2 separate regions of the Homo sapiens genome follow, and region 2 is linked to region 1. Evidence: fine-mapped expression QTL. A gene starts in region 1. The other region holds a variant in brackets. All regions are shown on one strand. Distances are from middle to middle. Region 1 holds the start of PFDN1 (prefoldin subunit 1). Region 2 overlaps CYSTM1 (cysteine rich transmembrane module containing 1).

The links. PIP is the estimated chance that this variant, and not a neighbour inherited with it, causes the effect.
Region 2: its variant is fine-mapped to the expression of PFDN1 in whole blood (TOPMed, PIP above 0.99).

Annotation. Positions count from the first base shown.
Region 1 is chr5:140,297,010-140,308,257 of GRCh38, reverse strand. It overlaps PFDN1 (prefoldin subunit 1), which reads left to right and starts at 5,157. Exons shown (of 4, transcript NM_002622.5): 1 at 5,157-5,217; 2 at 7,676-7,842. The coding sequence starts at 5,185. RefSeq lists a silencer at 5,048-5,252 and enhancers at 5,141-5,420, 8,812-9,328.
Region 2 is chr5:140,224,025-140,235,272 of GRCh38, reverse strand. The region is part of intron 2 of CYSTM1 (cysteine rich transmembrane module containing 1); the gene reads right to left. Among named protein-coding and RNA genes, the nearest start is that of CYSTM1, 54 kb to the right of the region's middle. The variant G/A (reference allele first, on the strand shown) is at 5,048.

The DNA.
Region 1 (11,248 bases):
CTTGAAGCCAGGAGTTCGAGACCAGCTGGGCAACAGAGTGAGACACCCCCCTCCATCTCTATTATAAAAATTAAAAAGAAAAAAAGAAAAAAGAAGAAGCATACTATGTACCAAGTAAGAAAGATTTTTAGAATATACATTTTAAGATAAAGGTTTAGGTGAATTTTTAGGTATATATTTTTAATCTACAAACACACACACAAACACAAACACACACATCAAAGTAGAAGGGCAAAACCCAAAGACAAAGTGAATCTTAAAATATACCAGAGAAAAGACAGATTTCTAACAAAGAAATGAAAAGCAGCCTGACAGAGGACTTTTTATCAGTATATAAAATCAGAAAACTATGGAAAAATGCCTTCAATAATAATTGTCAACCTATAGTTCTATATATAGCTAAGCTGTCATTCAAAAATAAGGGTGAACCTTTTAGATATGCATTTATTTATTTAAAAAAATATACATATTTTTTGGCCAGGCGTGGTGGCTCACGCCTGTAATCCCAGCACTTTGGGAGGCCGAGGCAGGCGGATCACGAGGTCAGGAGATTGAGACCATCTTGGCTAACACGGTGAAACCCCGTCTCTACTAAAAATACAAAAAATTAGCTGGGCACGGTGGCGGGCGCCTGTAGTCCCAGCTACTTGGGAGGCTGAGGCAGGAGAATGGCATGAACCCGGGAGGTGGAGCTTGCAGTGAGCCGAGATAGCACCACTGCAGTCCAGCCTGGGTGAAAGAGTGAGACTCCGTCTCAAAAAAAAAAAAAACAAAAAACATTTTTTTTGAGACAGGGTGTTGCTCTGTCACCCTGGCTAGAGTGCAGTGGCAGATCATAGCTCACTGCAACCTTGAACTCCTGGGCTCAAGCTATTCTCTGCCTCAGCCTCTCAAGTAGCTGGGACTACAGAGGTGTGCCACACCTGGATAATTTTTAAAAATTTTTGTAGCAATGGGGTCTTACTATGTTGTCCAGGCTGGTCTTGTTCAACTCCTGGCCTCAAGCAATGCTTCTGCCTTGGCCTCCTAAAGTGCTGGGATTCCAGGCATGAGCCACCACACCTGGCCTGATGTACATTTTTAGATATACACAGAGCATTTTCTAGGGCTGCCACAACAAAGTACCACAAACTGGGTGGCTTAAAACAACACAAATTTATTGTCTCAGTTCTGGGGGCTAGAAGTCCAAAATCAAGGTGTTGGCAAAGCCATGTTTTATCTGAAACCCGAAAGAGAAGAATCCTTCTTGCCTTTTCCAGTTTCTGATAGCCCCAGATGGTTTTTTTGAGACAGAGTTTTGCTCTTGTTGCCCAGGCTGGAGTGCAATGGCACAATCTCGGCTCACTGCAACCTCCACCGCCCAGGTTCAAGCAATTCTCCTGCCTCAGCCTCCTGGGTAGCTGGGATTACAGGCATGCACCACTACGCCCCGCTAATTTTGTATTTTTGGTAGAGACGGGGCTTCTCCATGTTGGTCAGGCTGGTCTTGAACTCCCGACCTCAGGTGATCTGCCTGCCTTGGCCTCCCAAAGTGCTGGGATTACAGGCGTGAGCCACCACGCCTGGCCTGATAGCCCCAGGTTTGATGTGGCTTTCTCCTTATGTCTGTTCACATAGTCCTCCTTGTGTGTGTGTCTGTATGTGTCCAAAGTTCCCCTTTTTATAAAGACATCAGTCATATTGCATTAGGGCCCACTCTAATAACCTCATTTAACTTGATTACCTCTGTAAAAACTCCATTTCCTTCCTTCCTTCCTTCCTTCCTTTCTCCCTTTCTTTTTATTTTTTGAGACATGGCTTTGCTCTGTCACCCAGGTGGGAGTGCAGTGGTAGATCATAGCTTACTGGAGCCTCAATTTCCTGGGCTCAAGCAATGCACCTATTGCAGCCTCCCAAGTAACTGGGAATATAGATAACTGCCACCACACTCGGTTAATTTTTTTTATTTTTTGTAGAGATGAGGTCTCGCCCTATTGTCCAGGCTGGTCTCAAACTCATGGGCTCAAAGAATCCTCCCGCCTCAGTCTCCCAAACTGCTAGGATTATAGGTATGAGCCACCACGCCTGTCCCAAAACCCTACTTTCAAATAGGGTCACATTCTGAGGTACTGGGAGTTAGGACTTCAACATATCTTTTGTGGGGGGCACAATTCAACCTGTAAAACAAAGATGAAGAGAATTTACTTATCAGACATTCTTACTAAAAGAACCTACTGAAGGATTTCCTTTATCATGAAGGAAATTAGGCTGGGTGCAGTGGCTCATGCCTGTAATCCCAGCACTTTGAGAGGCTGAGGCAGGTGGATCACCTGGGGTCAGGAGTTCAAGACCAGCCTGGCCAACATGGTGAAACCCCATCTTTACAAGAAATACGAAAAGTAGCCAGGTGGTGACATGCACCTGTAATCCAAGCTACTAGGGAGGCTGAGGCAGGAGAATTGCTGGAACCCGGGAGGTGGAGGCTGAAGTGAGCTGAGATTGAACCACTGCACTCTAGCCTGGGTGACAGAATGAGACCATGTCTCAAAAAAGAAAAAAAAAAAAAAAGGAAATTAAACTCATGAGGAAGAAGTAGTATACAAATACACAAAGAGAAACAATGACCAAACAAACAATGCAGAGAAGACTCTTGCCTAAGATCATATTACCCTTAAGTAGTATAATCAGTATTTGTACCCAGGTTGTCTGACAGCTTAGCCCAGGCTCTTAACTTTTACAGTCCATACATCTCTATGAGGACTCTTTCAAAAGTCTCATGAGGTAATGTACAGGACAGTATTTCAGACTTTTTTTGAATTTCAATATTCAATCACTATTTTATTTTATTTTATTTTATTTTATTTTTTGAGACAAGGTCTCACTCTGTCTTTCAGGCTGGAGTGCAATGACACAATTGATCCCCACTCACTGCAGCCTTGGCCTCCAGGCCTCACACAATTCTCCTGCCTCAGCCTCCTGAGTAGCTGGGACTACAGGGGCATGCCACCATGCCTGGCTAATCAGTCAGTATTTATTGATCATCTGTAATGAGAATCTAAGAAGGTCCCAGAGAATCAAAATATCAGATCCTTTTTACTCTTTCTCAAATTGGGGAGGAATGAGTCTTCTTTTTTTTTTCCAGAATAATTTATTCACATCCAGTATCCATTTTGTATTTTTTTCCCGTGATGCACTGTGACAGGTGTTCTAGGTACAAGAGGTGGAAGAACCATTATTCCATAGTTCTTGATTTCAAGGAGCTTACAGTCTAAGAAAAATGTTTTCTAAAAAAAGGTAGACAGTGTTATATGCCTTGAGAGAGAAATAGATGTTGTGAGGGGAGTTCAGAGGAGAGATTATCTTTGCTCTGTGTGATGGGGGATGTAGTGCCCATTTGCTGGACTTTGAAAGACAAACAGGACGGCGATTAACACCAGTGATTTATTGAGTATCTACTTGTGTGCATGGAGCTATGTTTGGAGCTTTTTATCCTGATCTCATTTATTTCTCACAATAACCCTGTTAGGTCAATATGGTCACTCTCAAACATGAGAAGACTGAAGCTCATTAAAAATAGGTGGCAGATGCTGGACGTGGTGGCTTGCCTGTAATCCCAGCCCTTTGGGAGGCCGAGGCAGGCGGATCACTTGAGGCTGGGAGTTGGAGACCAGCCTGGGCAACACGGTGAAACCCGTCTCTACCAAAACTACAAAAATTAGCCGGGCGTGGTGGCAGGCGCCTGTAATCCCAGCTACTCGGGAGGCTGAGGCAGGAGAATCACTTGATCCTGGGAGGCAGAGGTTGCAGTGAGCCGAGATCGTGCCACTGCATTCCAGCCTGGGTGACAGAGCGAGACCCTGGCTCAAAAAAAAAAAAAAAAAAAAAATGTGGCCGGGTGCGGTGGCTCAAGCCTTTAATATCAAAGCACTACAGCACTTTGGGCGACCAAGGCGAGCGGATTGTTTGAGCTCAGGAGTTTGAGACCAGCTTGGGCAACAAGGTGAAAACCCGTCTGTACAAAAATATAAAAATTAGCTGAGTGTGGGTGGCGCGCGCCTGTAGTCCCAGCGCTACTCACGAGGCTGAGGTGGGAGGATCGCTTGAGCGCGGGAGGTAGAGGCTGGAGTGAGTCGTGATTGCACCATTGCACTCGAGCCTGGGTGACAGAGCAAGATCCTGTCTCAAGAAACAAACAAACGTACAAAAAAAAAAAAAAACCCCACAAAATATCCAAGTGACTTGCTTAAAGTCACACAATTAGTAAATGGAACCAGACATAGGCTAAAGGCAGACCAAGCCTTGAATCTAGATTAGGCTGGTTCCAAATTCCCTGCCCTTTCATCTCCCTAACAGTTTGTTTTCTTTCTCTCTTTCTTTCTTTTTTTAAAAAATAAAATAAATTTCCTAATTATTTATGTAGCACTTTCTCTTAGCATAACAGTTTTTAGAGTAGGTTAACTTTTTTTTCCATTTCCAAAAGTCAATTATTATCTATTCTGGTTCAAATGCCAGGTCCTTTTATGGCAGAGATTCTCAAAAAAGTGATCCGCGGAGGAGTTGCACCATTAGGTCACTGGGGTAGTCTGCAAAAGTGCAAATTTCCAGACCCCATTCTCAAAGATTCTGAGTACGTTTGAGATGAGACCCAGAGAACCTGCATTTTTTTGTTTTTAAACAAACGTATTCAGCCTCTCTTGAGAACCACTGTGCCTAGAATGTCTTTGGGAAGCTTTTGGAAGTAATAAGTTCGTTTTGGAAAGAACACTCCAGACAAGCTTTCCAATAGTCTTTCCCAAACTGTCATGCCTGAGGTTCTGGACTTACTCTTACTCATTCCTGAGAGCACAGCGACTAGCTGAAGGACTGATCGACTGATGAGGGTTTGACCTCATCTACATACATCTCAATTTAGCAGCACATATTAAGCTAGCTGGCAAACTGCTTAAAGCCACATGGGAAATCTGCGCGTTGGGCTATGTCTGGAAGATACGGAGGAGCAAGCCAGACCTGACCGGTCAGGTAGTGAAGACACGGAATCCGAAACCCAAATATTTCAGGAGTCAATTCTCAGAGAAAGATAAGAAGCCCGGTTAGTCCAACTCATGCGCAGGCGCAGAAGAAAGACCGGCGCACAAAGTAAGACGCGCCCTTCCCCACCCTATTTCAGTCCAACTCCCACTGCGCAGGCGCTTACAGTGCACCAAGATGGCCGCCCCCGTGGATCTAGAGCTGAAGAAGGTAAAAGAGGGTCTTTGGCAGGCGGAGGTCTTCTTTTTGGAGGCTGAGGGGACTATAGACAAGAATATCAAGTGAGGCACGAGCCTTGCAGAAGGAAGGAGGGTCCAGTGGACTAGGGAATGGTTTCCCAGAGTCCTAAGGCCTCACTGGGTCTCCATAAACGGGGTGGGGGGCGAGCGGCTCTTGCTGGGTAGGAGCCGGTTGGTCTGGGTCGGGTAAGTCTGCGGGCCTGTCTCGGGCTTGTCCAGTCTTTCTGAGCTCCAGAGACATTTCGTTGCGTTTGGAGGCTTCAGGGACTCACTTTCATAGTAAGAACTAAAGAGAGCATTTCAAATGGGGGTCCCTTCGGACCCCTTGCCTGAGCTGTGGCATCCGTAATTCTGCCTCATTTGCTTTGAAAAACTCCAAGTCCAACCTTTGTTTTTAGGCCATTTATTCGGTTCTGTACCTTGAAAGTTGCAATATCTACAGTTCGGAAAACCAAGCATTGTAGCAGCAATGTTCATTTCAGGATTTTGCCCCCCCTCCACTTCTTTTGAAGGACTCGTCAAACAAAACAAAACAAAACCTCCTTCTTTTGAAGGAATTGTCAAAAACAAAACAAAACCAGTAAAGTTTTCCAAATAAAACCGGTATCGGAAGGAATTGGGTTTCCTGTTTTCCTCAGTTGCTTATAAATGTGTTGTTATTCAGATTTTTGCTATCTAAGAATGATCAGCATTCTAACACCACTAATGACCCCAAACCAGTATGCTTTGTGCGGTGGGGTGGATTGGAAAGGACCCTAGAATTTATCTATTTTAAATCTACTTTTCTGGAAAAGGAACCAGTGCCAGAAAAGTCTGTCAGAAGTTGGGACTAGAATCCAGTATTCTCTGCCTTATCTCACACTTTTTTGACCACTATTTTGAGTTCTTCAGATGAGCAACATCTTAGTTAAGACTGCCTGTGGTCAACTTGTGTAAAAGAAATAGGACAGCCGAAATAGCTGTTGCTTCTAACAAATGAAGCTTTTGTTAGTGTTGTGAGGATATTATGTGTTTGTGTCTTGCTTTTGTTCTTCTTGTCTTGAATCTTGTAAATTTAGCTCTTAGGTGGAGTCTCTAATCTTTAACAGTATACTAGCTCATCTTTAATGGTATACTAGCTTCCTTAGCAAGCTGTATAGAGCAGTCAGATGATACCTGGAATTTTACATTTCAAAACAAAATTGTGCATTCTAAAAATTTACCTTTTCTTCTGTTAAAAGTACCGATTTAAATCAGGGTTTAGTGAATGGATTTGCCTCCCGGTACTTTTGAATTTATTGCTACATTTGAAACTTGCGGGCGGTGAATGCAAACTAAGAAAATGATTACAAACTTAAAATGAATAATTTTGATAACCAATTAATTAAAAAACTTGTTTAAAGGTTTTATCTTCTAATGTTTTTACAGGGTCCTTTTTTTGGGTGGAGACAAATAGGAAATTTCAGGCCCCTCCCCTTCCCCAAAGTAAATCTTTCAAAACCTTACTAGTAGGTGAAAACAAGGTCACAATAAAAATTATGTAGTAGCCTTTGCTGTGCATTGCAGTCACAGATGTTATTAAGGCACAAATTTAACAGCATGTGAAAGTCATTCCAGGCACTTCAACAAAAGTATCCAAGAACTGTTTATCTTCCAGTTAAGTAAGTGTACGCAAGGGTCAAATTTGGCCTGGTATCTGTGGATGAAGATCATGATGCAATTCTTTTGCCAGTGCTTTGCATTTTTTCTCACTCTCTTTCTTGGTCTTCCTCTTAAAAATGTTCATATTATGAATATTACTATAGACAGTGGAATGGAAAGATTGCTGAACTAAGGGGTTAGAAGAAATGGATTTAAATAACACCTGCCTTCCCCCCAGTAGTTGTTCAACCTTGTGCAAGCCACTTTTATCTCTTAACTCATTTGGTTACTTAATTTGTAAATTGTGGATGATGAGACTGCCAATGCTAACTCATGGAATTACTGAGAGGCATAAATGAGATATTTATTATATTTCCTCATTAATATTCTTATATTAATATTCCCATGTTAATATTTCAAACTAATGTGAGAAAGTGCTTTGAAACCTAATTGTGCAATACAAATGTAGTGAGTTATTACTTTTATGGTTCTTGTTTTGAATCTCTGGATTTCATCCTTGACTATTGCATTTATTTCTTTTACTACTCCTTGAGTACTTGCTACTTAATATGGTTATTACTTAATATGCATTTGATTTGCTTCACACTGATTGTATCTTCTGATGATTGTAAATTCAGTATTTAGTATGGTGACTTGATTGTTTACAGTTATGTTGACTTTTATTGATGTTTGGTAAATTTCACAGCTTTGTCTCTGGCTAGCATATTTTGTTTTAATATATTTGGATTTGAGGTAAATGTTTCCTGTAAAATGTTTTACCTACTAAATCATGGACTTGTTTTTATTAGGCCTTCACAGAGCTTCAAGCCAAAGTTATTGACACTCAACAGAAGGTGAAGCTCGCAGACATACAGATTGAACAGCTAAACAGAACGAAAAAGCATGCACATCTTACAGATACAGAGATCATGACTTTGGTAGATGAGACTAACATGTATGAAGGTGTAGGAAGAATGTAAGTAAAATGTGTCCTTAATGGAGTTATTTTGGGAGTGCTTTTGTCCGAGTTAAATAGAATTTGTTCATCTTAAAACTTGGGTTAGGCCAGGAGTGGTGGCTCATGCCTGTAATCCTGGCACTTTGGGAGGTCGAGGCGAGTGGATCACTTGAGGGCAGCCTGTTGGCCAGTATGGTGGAACCCTGTATCTACCACAAATACAAAGATTAGCTGAGCATGGTGGCACTTGCCTGTAGTCTTGGCTACTTGGGAGGCTGAGGCAGGAGAGTCGCTTGAACCCCGGAGGTGGAGGTTGCAGTGAGCCGAAATCATGCCACTGCACTCCAGCCTGGGCAGCAGAGCTAGACTCTGTCTCAAAACAAAAGAAACTTTGGTTTAAAGTAAGTATCTTTTTCTTTTTGAGACGGAGTTTTCGCTATATCGCCCAGGCTGGAGTGCAATGGCCCGATCTTGGCTCACTGCAATCTCCGTCTCCTGGGTTCAAGCGATTCCCCTGCTTCAGCCTCCTGAGTGACTGGGATTACGGGCGCTTGCCACCACGCCCTGCTAATTTTTGTGTTTTTAGTAGAGACGGGGTTTTACCATATTTGCCAGGATGGTCTGGAACTCCTGACCTCCTGATCCGCCCACCTCAGCCTCCCAAAGTGCTGGATTACAGATATGAGTCACCACACCCGGCAGGTTAAAGTATCTTAGAAATAACTTTAAAGATTATCTAATTAAATGCTTTCTTTTTTTAAAATGAGGAGCTGAACTTCAGGTAGATTAATTAAAGTGTTTAAGTTTAGACTTTAAAGTACATTTTTTTTTTTTTTTTGAGACAGAGTCTCGCTCTGTTGCCAGGCTAGAGTGCAGTGGTGTGATTCTGGCTCACTGCAACCTCCGCCTCTTGGGTTCAAACAATTCTGCCTCAGCCTCCTGAGTAGCTGGGACTACAGGCGCATGCTACCATGCCCGGCTAATTTTTGTATTTTTAGTAGAAATGGGGTTTTACCGTGTTGGCCAGGATGGTCTCAATCTCTCCTCTTGATCCGCCCGCCTTGGCCTCCCACAGTGCTGGGATTACAGGCGTGAGCCACCGCCCCTGGCCTCAAAGTACATTTCTTAAGTGCTTACTTTCCTGTTCTGTCTATGATTAGGTACTTAAGTGTAAGTTCAGTAATAAAAATGATTTGTCATGGAAAATGTTTATAGCAATATTATATTGTATGTGAAGAAGATTTATTTAAGTAGGTGCAGTTTTAACCTCCTCTTCCCTGCTTAATTTATTAGGAGTGATACAAATCATAAATCTTTCAGATGTCTGATCAGTGTTGTAAAATAAAAATAAAAATTCAATTGTCATTTAAATACACTCATTCTGGCCAGGCATAGTGGCTCATGCCTGTAATCTCAGCACTGCAGGAGGCCAAGGTGGGTGGATCCCCTGAGGTTAGGGGTTTGAGACCAGCCTGGCCAACATGGTGAAACCCCATCTCTACTAAAAATACAAAAATTAGCGAGGCATGGTGGCGCACACCTGTAATCCCAGTTACGAGACTGAGGCAGGAGAACTGCTCGAACCCAGGAGGTGGAGGTTGCAGTGAGCCGAGATTGCGCCATTACACTCCAGCCTGGGCAACAAGAGTGAAACTCTGCCTCAAAAAAAAAAAAAGTAAAAAATACACTCATTCTAAGTGTCATGCATTGTTCTAATAGGAGGACAACTCACATGTGAGAAATCTAGTAAATTATTTTACTTTTGTTTGTTCTAATTAATACATTATTAACTTCGTACATTTCACTTTTTTTTCTTTTAAAAGCATATTGCCCTTGTGAGAGAGAATAGGTCTGCTTCATATTCTGTAAGCAGAAAAAAAGGAATGGAAAAGCCCTTAAGTACAGGTCACATTCCATTACAGTGAGCTAAAAGGAGAAGACTGATTTTTTTTTTTTTTAAGTTGGGGGGAGGTACAGGAGGAGGGTTTTTCTGGAATTTGGTCTTTGAGTATTACTTAGTAAGTAGACCATTACTTCAGATTTGGAGATCTTTTAGTTAGAATGGAATTTGACCTCAGTCTCGGGATGACTTGTTTTGTGATTGATTTGAAGAAAGAATAACATGTGTAAAATTTAATAATGACTTTGGAATGACATCATGAGAAGTAGACCTGCTCATCACTGACTAATCCATATCTTTATGGTTCAGAATTAGATTATGTTAAATTGTTCATCTGATTTGCTTTCTCAGAATGAATAATGTAGCACAAGTAAATTTTATGTCCAAGCTCATATATTTCATTTTAGTTTAAGAGGATAAGGATCCCAATTTGAGAGTTTGTTACTGGGACACAAAAGAATTGGAACAAAGTAGAACCCTTGAATATGTGTCTGTGTAGTATGAAATGCATTGTTGGCATTCACTACAGGATAATTTTATCCTTAATGTGAATATCCTTAGGTCTTAAAACAGTAATGCCAGCTTTATTAACATGTTGTACTTGGATTTCACATCACTGCGCTAGCCTTTGTTTGCAATAGCTAAAGAATTCCTTTTTCAAAATAGAAAAAACGTTTTACTCCCTTTGGGCTTTTGAGCTACAGTGAAGTTTTAATTTTTAATTAGAATAGTTTCATTTATTAAACGTTCTGCAGAAGTGTTAGGAGAGTTGTTTTTTGTACATATTTTCCAAAGTGCTACAGATAAGTTGTTTTCCATACCAAGAATTTTGGAGTTTAAAGGCTAGGATATGAATTAATAAATAGTAGAATGGTATTATTTCCAGAAGGTTTATTTCATATAAATTACGTTTCTTAAAAGAAGTGTGGAGTTTTAAATGTTTGGATAAAGTTGAGCTTCTACATGATTTCAGACTTCTGTTTTAAATTTGACTTTAGTGCTGTCTGCATCTCACCGGGAGTATGAGTTTGACCCTGTATTGTAGGGGCATGTAAGGTGAATAGCGTTTGTTGTTTGGCTAGCGTATTAGTGCCCTGAGAGGAAGAAAAGACTTGCTGAGTATTAGTCTGGTCATGAGGATGTTCTCTTTCTTGATGCTAAACCTGAGATATCTATTTCTGAATTTATAGTCGAGTAATTTTGGGTATCATTGTGATTCACTTCTTTAATTCTAGTCTTTACCTTACTTTGTTTTTTCTTTTCCATTTTGAGTGTTATTTGGGAATTCTGACTAGAATATTACTTTTTCCCAAATTTTCATTTTAAAACCGTAATAAAATGGTTATAATAAAATCCAAAACTTCATTTTTCTTTTAGAACATGCAGTAGATTTTCCCATTGCTGAAATTCAGGTCTCATTGCTTCTTGCCTGGACTTTTATGATAGCATCTTAACTGTTCTTTCTTCCTGCCTTCATTCTGTCTGTCCAAATCCATTCTTCACATATCTTTCAGAATTAATCAC
Region 2 (11,248 bases), 73 kb after region 1:
AGGCTGGCTGGGCTTGGTGGCTCAAACCTGTAATCCCAGCACTTTGGGAGGCTGAGGCAGACAGATAACCTGAGGTCAGGAGTTCAAGACCAGCCTGGCCAACATGGCGAAACCCCATCTCTACTAAAAAGTATAAAAATTAGCCAGGCGTGGTGGCGGGCGCCTGTAATCCCAGCTACTTAGGAGGCTGAGGCAGGAGAATCGCTTGAACCCTGGAGGTGGAGGTTGCAGTAAGCCGAGATCGCGCCACTGAACTCCTGCCTGGGCAAGGGTGAGACTCCATCTCAAAAAAAAAAAAAAAAATTATGAATGAGGCTGATATACCAGGCAGAAGAAATTAAGGAAAATCTAGAGAAAAAACCTAATCATGCCTAGTACATGACAGTTCTATGACCCTGTGATGACGGTGTAAAGACCTCGAGGGAGGGAGGATTTTCCAATGGCAGCAAACAGTGTATGATCTTGCTCATGACCTGCTCAGAAGTGAGGCACAGGAAGACCACGGTTGTGAATGATGGTGGCTGACCTGACTCAGAGCATAACCCGGCCCACAAGTCCCTCAACATACTGGCCATCTTGTAATGGCTGTTCCTACCCAATTTAATGAATAGTATACCTCATTTACTGCCAACTTCCAAAGACACCAATGTAATCATACACTAGGGGCTTTAACTGTGGAATAATTACAACCCAGCAAATGAATGGGCAGGCTGCCTGCCATCATTAAAGGTTATGGCATGTAAGGGTGAGCAACCAATCCCACTTAAATACCCATTAGGCCCCATGATGATCTATAGATTTAATGCAATTTCAATAAAAATCCCAACAGGAGTTTTTAATAGATAAAGATAAACAAATTCTAAAATTTATGGAAAGGAAAGAGAACTAAAATGACTAAAATGAAGATTTAACATAAAGCTACAGTAGTCAAGATAACCGGTTAATGGTATTGGCAAACAGACACATAGATCAAAGGAATGGAATGAAGAAGACAATAATAGACCCACATGAACATGGCTAACTGGTTTGACACATAAGCAAAGGCAATTCATTGGAGAAAGCATTTTGAAAAATATTGGTATGGCATGCAGAACACCTCACAAAACCCCTCAGCTATTTTAAACCTCACATTTTATACAAAAACTAACCCCAAGTGGATTATAGATCTCAATGAAAAACATAAAACTGTAAAATATTTTAAAGAAAACATGGAAAAGCATCTTCATGACCTGGGGTTAGACAAAGAGTCCTTAGACTGACACCAAAAACGTGATAAAATAAAAAATTGATAAACTGGACTTAATCACAATGAAAACTTTTGCTCCATGGAAGACACGGTTAAGGGGATGAAAAGATAGGCTACAGACGCAGAGAAAATATGTGCAAATCACAGCCAACAGAGGACTTGTATCTAAAATATATAACAACTCTCAAAAGTCCACAGTAAGAAAACAACCCAATTTGAAAGTGGATAAAAGACTTGAAAAAACACTTCACCAAAGAGGATATACGGAGAGCAAATATGCACATGACTTCATCACTAACTATTAGGAAAACACAAATTAAAACCACAATGAGATGCCACTACATACAATCAGAATGGCTAAAATAAAAATTGCTGACAATATCAAGTACTGGCAAAGATGCAGAGCCACCGGAACTCTCATTCATTACTGATAGGAACGCACGATGCCAAAGCCACTTTGGAAAAGAGTAGCAGTTTCTTAAGCCTACCATATGATCCAGAAATTCCACTCCTGGGTATTCAGCTTAGAGAAATGAAAACTTAGGTTCACACAAAAACCTGAACGTCAATGTTTATAGCAGATGGATTCATAATCACTCAGAGGTAGAAACAACCCAAATGGTCCTTCAACAGGTGAATGAATAACTGGGGTACCTCTAATACAATGGAATACTTCTCAGCAATAAAGTATCCACAGATCCTCATAGAATACACCAGCAGTTAACACACTGATGATTGTGCTCGCAAGGCAGTATCCTGGAATGACATTCCAGGGCAAAACCTACCATCCCAAATCTCCTGTGGCCAAATGCACTGCAAAATCCCAAAGACCAGGGGCTTTCAAATGTATTCCTCAGGCCCCTAAGCTTTCATAAAAAGTAGGGGGTGGTTCCTCTTTGCCTCAACCACAGCAATTCTATAGTATCTATTTTCCAGACTGGAGTTGCATGTAGAGTTTCCTTTCAAAAGATGTATATTAGCAAAATCTGTAATGGTGGTCATGAAAGATCTAGACTGTTGCTACTGTTCAGAAGGACCTCCCCAGGGCATGGATGGTCATCTGTTTGGTTATCTATGTGCTGGACCCTCCAGCAGCTACCGCAGAGGACATAGTCTTCTTGAGGAACAATGTCTCCTCTGTTCAGGCTCAAAGCTGAGTGACATTAGCCTGACTCCCTTACTTGATGTCTAACCTTTTTGGAACTCAATGTTTTGTTAGCATGCTTCTGTCCAGTTTAGTGGAGGTTCCTAGCCTTCCTGCCTCAGCTAGTTCTTTGCACCTGTGAGCTTGCCTGTTCCATGCTTACACACATGTCTGCCTTTCTCCAGGCCTGAGGAGCCCTGTCTTCTAGTTCCAAGCAGTCTTGTCTTTCCTTCTGTTGATTTCCTTCACAGAACAAGAACTGGAGAAAAGTCCACCTCCTCAGTGAAAACAGTGTAGACACTTTTGCGTTCTCACTTTACCTAATCTCTCAGCAACATTTGATGTTACTAATCAATCCTCTCTTCCCAATACATCTTCACTCAGCTCTCAGGACATCCCATTCTCCTAGCTTTCTCTCTCTGACTCCTTTGCAGATCCATCCAGAATTCCTTAAAGCTCAGCCCTACACTGCCATCTTTCCTTTTCCCTCCATATTTCCATCCAAGTTGATCTTACTCACGGCCACAGTTTCAATGATCATCAACATGCCAAGGCTCTCCACATTGACATCTCTAGCCCAACCTCTCCTCCAAGCTTCAGGTTTATATACAATTGCTTACCTGACAGCTCCACTTGAATGTCTCATAGATACTTTGAAACCTCAAACTAACTCAGTTTGTTCTCTCTCTCAACCAATCATGATTCCTTTCTCTTGTTCCCAACCTCTGTAAACACCACCACCAGGCACCCAGTTCCAGTCAGAAACCCAGAAGTCATCCCTGACTCTTACCTTCTTCCTCAATGTCCATATCCAATCCATCACCAAGTCTGGTTGATTTTACTTCCCAATATCTCAAATGCATTCATTTCTCTCCATAATCACCATGTGTACCTGTGCCCCCTTCCAAACCACTCTCCACACAGAAGCCAAAGGGATTTCTTAAAAATGCAAATGTGATATCATCCCTTTGCTTAATATCCTTCAACAGCTTCCCATTACTCACAAGACAAATACCAAAATCCTTAACTTGGGCTATGAGCCTCCATCTTGTTCCTGCCTGTTTCTCAACTGCTCCTAATGTCCCCTTGCGGCCTATGACACCAATTTCCTTTTCCACTTTATCAAATGAGCCACCATCTTTCCTGCCATTGGGCCTTGGCACCTGCTGTTCCTACACTTTTGCCTACTGACATCTATACATCTTTCAGATCTTAGCTCACTTCACTGCCTTGGGGAAGCCTTCTTGGACTGTGCCAGATTGTTCCCCTTTTGTAGGTTTTCATGGCATTATGTCTCTTCTCTTCACAGGGAAGTATGATGTCAATTATTACCTGTGGGTTTATTTAATGTCTGGTTCCCTCCCTAGAGTATAAGCCCTGCAAAAGCAGGGATTGGGGGTTTGTTCTGTGTGGTCTGTCACCTGACACTCTGGAGCTACGTTTACGGAATCCATGATTGTCTCTGTAGAACCCTGGTGGTTTCCCTGGAGCATGCATAGGACAGACTGAAGAACTGCTCCCCTCACAGCTGAACTGCCCCCAAGGGAATGGTGTGACAAAGATGGGCTAAAATTTTCTAATGTGTGATCCCAATGGAATGAATAAATTATTTCCACCAAGTAATAAATGTAACATTTTAAAAAAGTAATCTATTCACAGTAACATTAAAATTATACCTGGAGAAAAATCTAATTTTAAAAACCAATAAAAATATGTGAGAACTATGTGAAGAAAATTTTAAGACTTAAAGGACATAAAAAGAAGACAAAAATAAATTGAGAGATTACTTGTTCATGGTGGGAAGACAATATTGTAAATATGTCAACTCTTTCACCAATTACTTGATAAATTACATGCTGTTCCAATCAAAGCCAAACATGGTTTTCTGTAGAAACTAACACACATTCTAAAATGTAGATGAAACAGTAAAAGGCCGAGAAAGCCAAGAAAATTACGAAAAAGAATAAGAGGTATGTGTTTATGCACGTGCTGGTGGAAGGAGGGTACACATCACACCAGATTCCTGATTCTAGCTCATATTCTAATTCGTATATGGGAACGTGGTATATGACAAATCTCATCTCAGATTAATAGGGAAAGGACTGAAACTGTGCCCCAAAGATTAAAGACACCAATCCCTAACAGAGTTTACAAGATGGCAGTCAAGAAACAACTTGCTGAAACACTGAAACGCCTCTGCTTATGAGGCAAAAGAACTGAGTGAAATCTGTTAGAACCAATATGGCCAGCTGGAGTTTGGACAGAATGAGCCTGCTGATGATGTCACAGCCTGAATTTTCACTGCATGTTTCATGCTAACCCCTCCCCTGAATTTGCACATGGGATCCAAGAGGTAGCATGAAGAGATTATTGTACATGCCCCAGGACTTTCCAAACCTCTTCTTTCCTTCCATCAACCATCTCTCATCCTGGAATCCACCCCTCTAACCTTTTCTAATAAAATTACTGCCTTAAAGCCAGGACAGGGAGACAGATTTGAGCTGGAATCCTGTCTAATTGTTAACTTATAATAAAAGCATTTCTTTTCTCAAAAACCCAGTGTCATGGAATTGGCTTCTAGCACATCAGGCAGTGAGCCCCTTTTGCTTGGTAACAGGATGATCTAATTAATACATGCAGCTGGAACTACCAAGATG[G/A]AAAAAGAAAACTAGAATCTTATCCTACACCCATGATAAAAAATAAATTCAGGGCCAGGTGCGCGGTGGCTTACGCCTGTAATCCCAGCACTTTGGGAGGCTGAGATGGATGGATCACCTGAGGTCAGGAGTTCGAGACCATACTGACCAACATGGTGAAACCCCTGTCTCTACTAAAAATACAAAAATTAGCTGGGCATGGTGGTGCATGCCTGTAGTTCCAGCTACTTGGGAGGCTGAGGCAAGAGAATCCCTTGAACCCAGGAGGCAGAGGCTGCAGTGAGCCGAGATCGTGACACTGCACTCCAGCTTGGGTGACAGAGCAATACCTCATTTCAAAAAATAAAATAAAAATGCAAAATTAGCTGGGTGTGGTGGCACATGCCTGTAATCCCAGCTACTTGGGAGGCTGAGGCAGGAGAATCGCTTGAACCAGGGAGGCGGAGGTTGCAGTGAGCCAAGATCATGCCATTGCACTCCAGCCTGGGCAACAAGAGCAAAACTAGGTCTCAAAAAAATAAATAAATACATAAATAAATAGATAAATAAATAAATCAGGTGGACTAACGACTATATCTTAAACATTTTTAAAAGAAAATATAGACTTATTTTTATGAGCTTGGAATAGAAAATGAGTTTTCAAAGACTAAACCATACAAAGCACGAGGGAAAGATGATAAACATGACTTCTAAAATTTCTCATACTAGAAAATACACCATAAAAAGATTAAGAGAGGCCAAGTATGGTGGCTCACACCTGCAATCCCAGCACTTTGGATCTCAGGTGGATCGCTTAAATTCAGGAGTTCAAGACCAGCCTGGAAAACATGGCAAAACCCTGTCTCTATTAAAAAGATACAAAAATTAGCAGGGTATGGTGGCGCGTGCCTGTAATCCCAGCTACTTGGGAGGCTGAGGCACAAGAATTGCTTGAACCCAGGAGGTAAAGGTTGCAGTGAGATGAGATCACGCCACTGCACTCCAGCCTGGGTAACAGAGCAAGACTCCATTCCAAAAAAAAAGAGAGTCAGATAGGAAGAAGATATTTGCACACCTATAAAACAGACAAATATTAGTGGATAGAATATATAGAAATTCTCTACAAATCAGTAAGACAAACCAACAGAAAAGACAGGCTAAGAATATGTATAATCAATTCACAAGATATGTACAAACTGCCCAAAACTTATATGTTTATGTTCAAGGTCACTAGTAATCAGGGAAAGCAAATTAGTGAGATACCATTTCACACCTATGAAAGGTGCTAAAATTTAAAAATCTGTGAGTTATTGTCAAAGAAAGAAGAAAATGGAAATTGTGCAACAGTAGTTGTTTATTCCTGTAACAGGAGGTAGCAGGGCTGTAGGGAAATACTCGGATCTTAGCTGCTCAGTTCAAGTTGTCCAGGAGGCAGCAGCAGCAGAGAGCAGCCCAGCAAGCAGCCAGGACTGCCTGACACCCGCTGTCCATCTTCCTTTCCCGTTCTATCACGTACACTGTTGAAGGGGGTGCAGGGCGGGCAGAGGAGAGAGAGACCCAGTCAGAGGGGACTTGGAGTGGCAGCATGCTGGTAGAACTTACCACACTCTGCAGACTGGTTCTGTCTAGATTGTTAGCTCCACAAGGGCAGGGCAGGGGCCAAGCTGATCTGGTTCACTGCGCTTTCCCTGTTTCAGTGTCTGGCACACATCAGGTACTCAGCAGCTATCAGACCACTGTTCCTGCCACCTCTCCTCCAAGCTGACCAGGAAACCCAACCCAGTACTTTATTTGTTGCTTGTCCAAAGTGATCCAATTCTCAATGCAACCCTTGCCCTGAGCCCCACCCCTGAAGCCTGCCCTGATATGGCAGGCACCGGCGGAAATCTTTACATATGATTTCATTTAATCCTCCCAACAGCTCTGTATTATTATCATCATTTTATAACTCTCATACACTGTTAGCAGGAGTGGGAATGGACAGAATCTCTTTGAAGGAGAATTTAGGGAGAAGGGGAGAGACAACAACTGCAACCCAGAAAATTTGTATCTGGAATTTATCCTGCAGAAATAATTGTCCCAGCGTTCAGGGATCTATGTAAAGTATGGTTGTTGCTGCATCAAAATAACCCCAAACTAGCCTTAATGTCTATCAGGTGAGTCCAGTTGGGTAAATTAAAGCACACCACATAATAGACTACTACTAAAAGAACCAGGTGGTTCTTCCACGTGACCAATAATTTAAGGGATGAAAGCAAGGTCTGGAGCAGTGCATCTATTTTATTTGTACAATAAGAAGGATATACACACAAATACACACACACACATTTCTGAAATATACAAGAACTTAAAGGTCAGGGTGTGGAGAGAGGTGGAGGTTTTCACTTTGCTTTTACATTTTTCTCAAATCCAGGCTCGTCTGATTCCAATGCCACACTCAAAGCTGCTCCTGGGGGTCCTCATGGCAGAAGGGTGGGGCCTAGCTAGTTTTAGAATGCCTTGGATCTCTTCAAGCGTCTATTTCAACTGCTCTAAGATAGTTCCGGGGGCTTTAGGGGCAGTGGGCACTGACCAATCTGGGCTCCTAGCCCCAGTGGCCCCATCCTCAGTCCTGGGCTGCCTCCCTAAGTCACTGTTACCTAGACACCTCACATGGTCCAACTCCCCACAACCATGCTCCTCTTATAGCCTGACCTGGCACCTCCTAACCCATAGTTCCACCTATCAAATATGCCTTAAATCCAATTCTGTCTCCTCTCAGGCCCTGCAGCCTCTGAGTTCTAGGCTAGCACCAGGACTTCTGCTGGGCAAACCTGGCAAGTAGGGGATGCTATCAAATCACAACTCTCCCTCCAAGGAGCTCAAACCAGAGAGGACCCCTATACTGCTGCAATTCCTAGGGCTGAGCCCCTATTAACCCTCTCCCCCCTGCCCATGCAAGATCCCAAACAGCTCATTAAGGCTTCTTTTGCAACCCCTGGCCCTTCACACCAGGTGGCAGTACTTCAGAATTTACCAAATCAACCCCAGCCTCTTCTCTTGGGGTTTGGGAAGGTACTCAGGAGCCCACCTGAGCCAGGTTCTGGGGAAGACGGCATCAAGGGAGCAGGCGCCATTGGTCTCTGCCTATGCACAGCCTTGAGGATTCCATGATGCTCCAGGGGCCACCTCCAGGTCCCTAACCAGCCCTCTGGCTCCCCTCACCCCAGTGAGTGTGAACATCCATCATACTCCGCTTTCTCCTCTCACTTCCTCAGCAGAGCCCCTCCATTCTTGACTCCCACACTGCTGCTCTCCACCTCTGCCAGTCAGCGACCTCAGCAGCACCAGGACCCTTGTCAGGAACTTCAGCGTCTACTCAGCTGACCCTTGGTAGTGCCCACCCCACCCCTTGGCCTTCTCTCAGCATCAGCAGTACTGTCACTGGGCTCATCCTTTCCTGTGTCCTGGAAATATCCCCTCCACATTTTTTTTTTTTTTGAGACAGAGTATCACTCTTGTTGCCCAGGCTGGAGTACAAGGGTGCGATCTCGGCTCACTGCAACCTCTGCCTCCCAGGTTCAAGTGATTATCCTGCCTCAGCCTCCCAAGTAGCTGGGATTACAGGCATGCGCCATCACATCTGGCTAATTTTTATATATATATATATATATATATATAATATTTAGTATATAATATATATTTATATTATATATTATATTATTAATATATATAAATATATTATATATTATTAATATATATTTATATATATTATATATATATAAATATATATATATTTTTTATAGAGACGGGTTTTCACCATGTTTGCCAGGCTGGTCTCGAACTCCTGACCTCAAGTGATCCGCCTACCTTGGCCTCCCAAAGTGCTGGGATTATAGATGTGAGCCACCGCGCCCAGCCCAGAATAGGAATTTTAATAAAATATCAAGCTGAATTTAAATATAGGGTCATCTACTCACTGGCCATGTAACCTTGGACAGGTAATAACCTCTCCAACCCTCAGTTTCTTCTGCTATAAAACAGGAATAATATTAGTAATCTATACCCCATCATAGGGTTGCTGGGAAAATGAAGAGATTATGCATGTAAAATGCTGGGCACAGTGCTTCGCACATTGGAAAGCATTCAGTAAATGCTCACTGATGTTATTACTATTATTCAAATGCCTATGACCTTTCAGGCAGACCCCTCCCCTGACCAAAAGCAGGCCTCTTGTAGACAGGGAGAAAGAAGAGGAGGTGTTTACCCACTCTGGGAAGAAGCCTCAGAAATAAACAGGAGGCTGGGAGTCAGAGTCACAGGCTATTCTAGGAGCAAGGGGCCTGCAAGATCAGTTAGCCCCTCGCTGTAGAGAGGAGGTAACGGAGTTCCAGTGCAAGGGATGGATATGCCCAAAGCCACTCAGAGAGAAGAGGAAGAGCAGAACAGAGCCAGATCTCTATCTCCAGTAGATTCACGGCAGGAAAATACAAGAATGCTGGGGAGGGGACTGCCAGGAACCGAAGGCCCTGCCTAGGCACACCTTCCTTCACTCCAGCTCACACACAGACATGAACAGTCCCCATCAGTTTTCCTTTGGCCTCAACTAACTACATGACATCAGAGCCAAGGTTCAAAGTCAGGGAAACCGGTCACATCTTTGGGAAGTATGACTAGGAAGCCCAGGCAGAGCTCAGGGCTGGGCAGCTTCCAAGTCAGAGGATGTGGAGTTTGTATACTGAGCCTGGGACAGAAGAGAAACATATGGGACATGGGAACAATCAGGATGGCAGCCAGAGGCTGGAGTCCAGGGGCCACAGACACCTCCTGTATCCTGACTGCCAGGCCCAGGCCCATGCCTGGTAACAACCCCTTCCCCAACTCCCTCCCACTGATTGAAGGCCTAAACAACCCAGGTACTGTGGTCACCCCAGCAGGAATCCCCACAGTGGGATTCACCTGTATCTGCCTACACCACCTGCCAGTCCTAGCGTTCCACTGATCCTGAATGGGCAGTGACACCTATGTAGGAAAACAGTTTGTTGCATGGCAAGAATGACACCATCTTTTTTATTTTTATTTTTTAGAGAGAGGGTCTTGCTCTATTACCCAGGCTGAAGTGCAGTGGCATGATCATAACTCACCTCAGCGTCAAACTTCTGGGCTCAAGCAATCCTTTAACCTCTGCTTCCCAAGTAGCTAGGACAACAGGTGCATGTCACCACACCTGGCTAATTTTTAAAATTTTTTGTAGAGACAGGGTCTTGCTATGTTGTCCATGCTGGTCTTCAACTCCTGGCCTCAAGCCATCCTCCTGCTTGGTTTCCCAAAGTACTGGGATTACAGGCATGAGCCACTGTGCCTGGTATGACACCATCTTGAAGTGAAACCACGATGACTGATGTATTCCCATAGCATAGACAACTCCTTATAAAAACACAATGCCAGGCTGGGCATGATGGCTCACACCTGTAATCCCAGTGCTTTGGGAGGCTGAGGCGGGAGGATCCCTTGAATTAACGAGTTCAAGACTGGCCTGGGCAATAAAGTGAGACTCCATCTCTACAAAAAAATTTTTAAGTAGCTGAGTGTGGTGGCTCATGCCTGTAGTCCCAGCTATTCAGGAGGCTGAAGCAGGAGGATTGCTTGAGCCCAGGAGTTTGAGGCTGCAGTGAGTCATGATCACACCACCACATTCCAGCCCAAGTGACAGAGAAAGACCCTGTCTCCAAAAATAAAAGAAAAAAAGAAACAATGCCTATTGCATAAATAACCTCTAGTGAAGATATTTGTCTAATCTTCCTAGAGTTTTGTAAGAAAGTCTGCGGCAGCTGGGCATGGTGGCTCACGTATGTAATCCCAGCACTTTGGGAGGCCGAGGCGGGCGGATCACCTGAGGTCAGGAGTTCGAGACCAGCCTGACCAACATGGAGAAACCCCATCTCTACTAAAAATACAAAATTAGCTGGGTGTGGTGGCGCATGCCTGTAATCCCAGCTACTCGAGAGGCTGAGGCAGGAGAATCGCTTGAACCCGGGAGGCAGAGGTTGCGGTGAGCCGAGATTTCGCCACTGCACTCCAGCCTGGGCAACAAGAACGAAACTCCGTCTCAAAAAAACAAACAAACAAAAAAATAAACTCTGAGGCATGACCAGCTATACATGTGTTTACCCTAAAAGCTTGCTATTTAAATAATACTTTCTGGAGAGTACGTACAGGGATCCACCCTGCCTCCACCTGAGA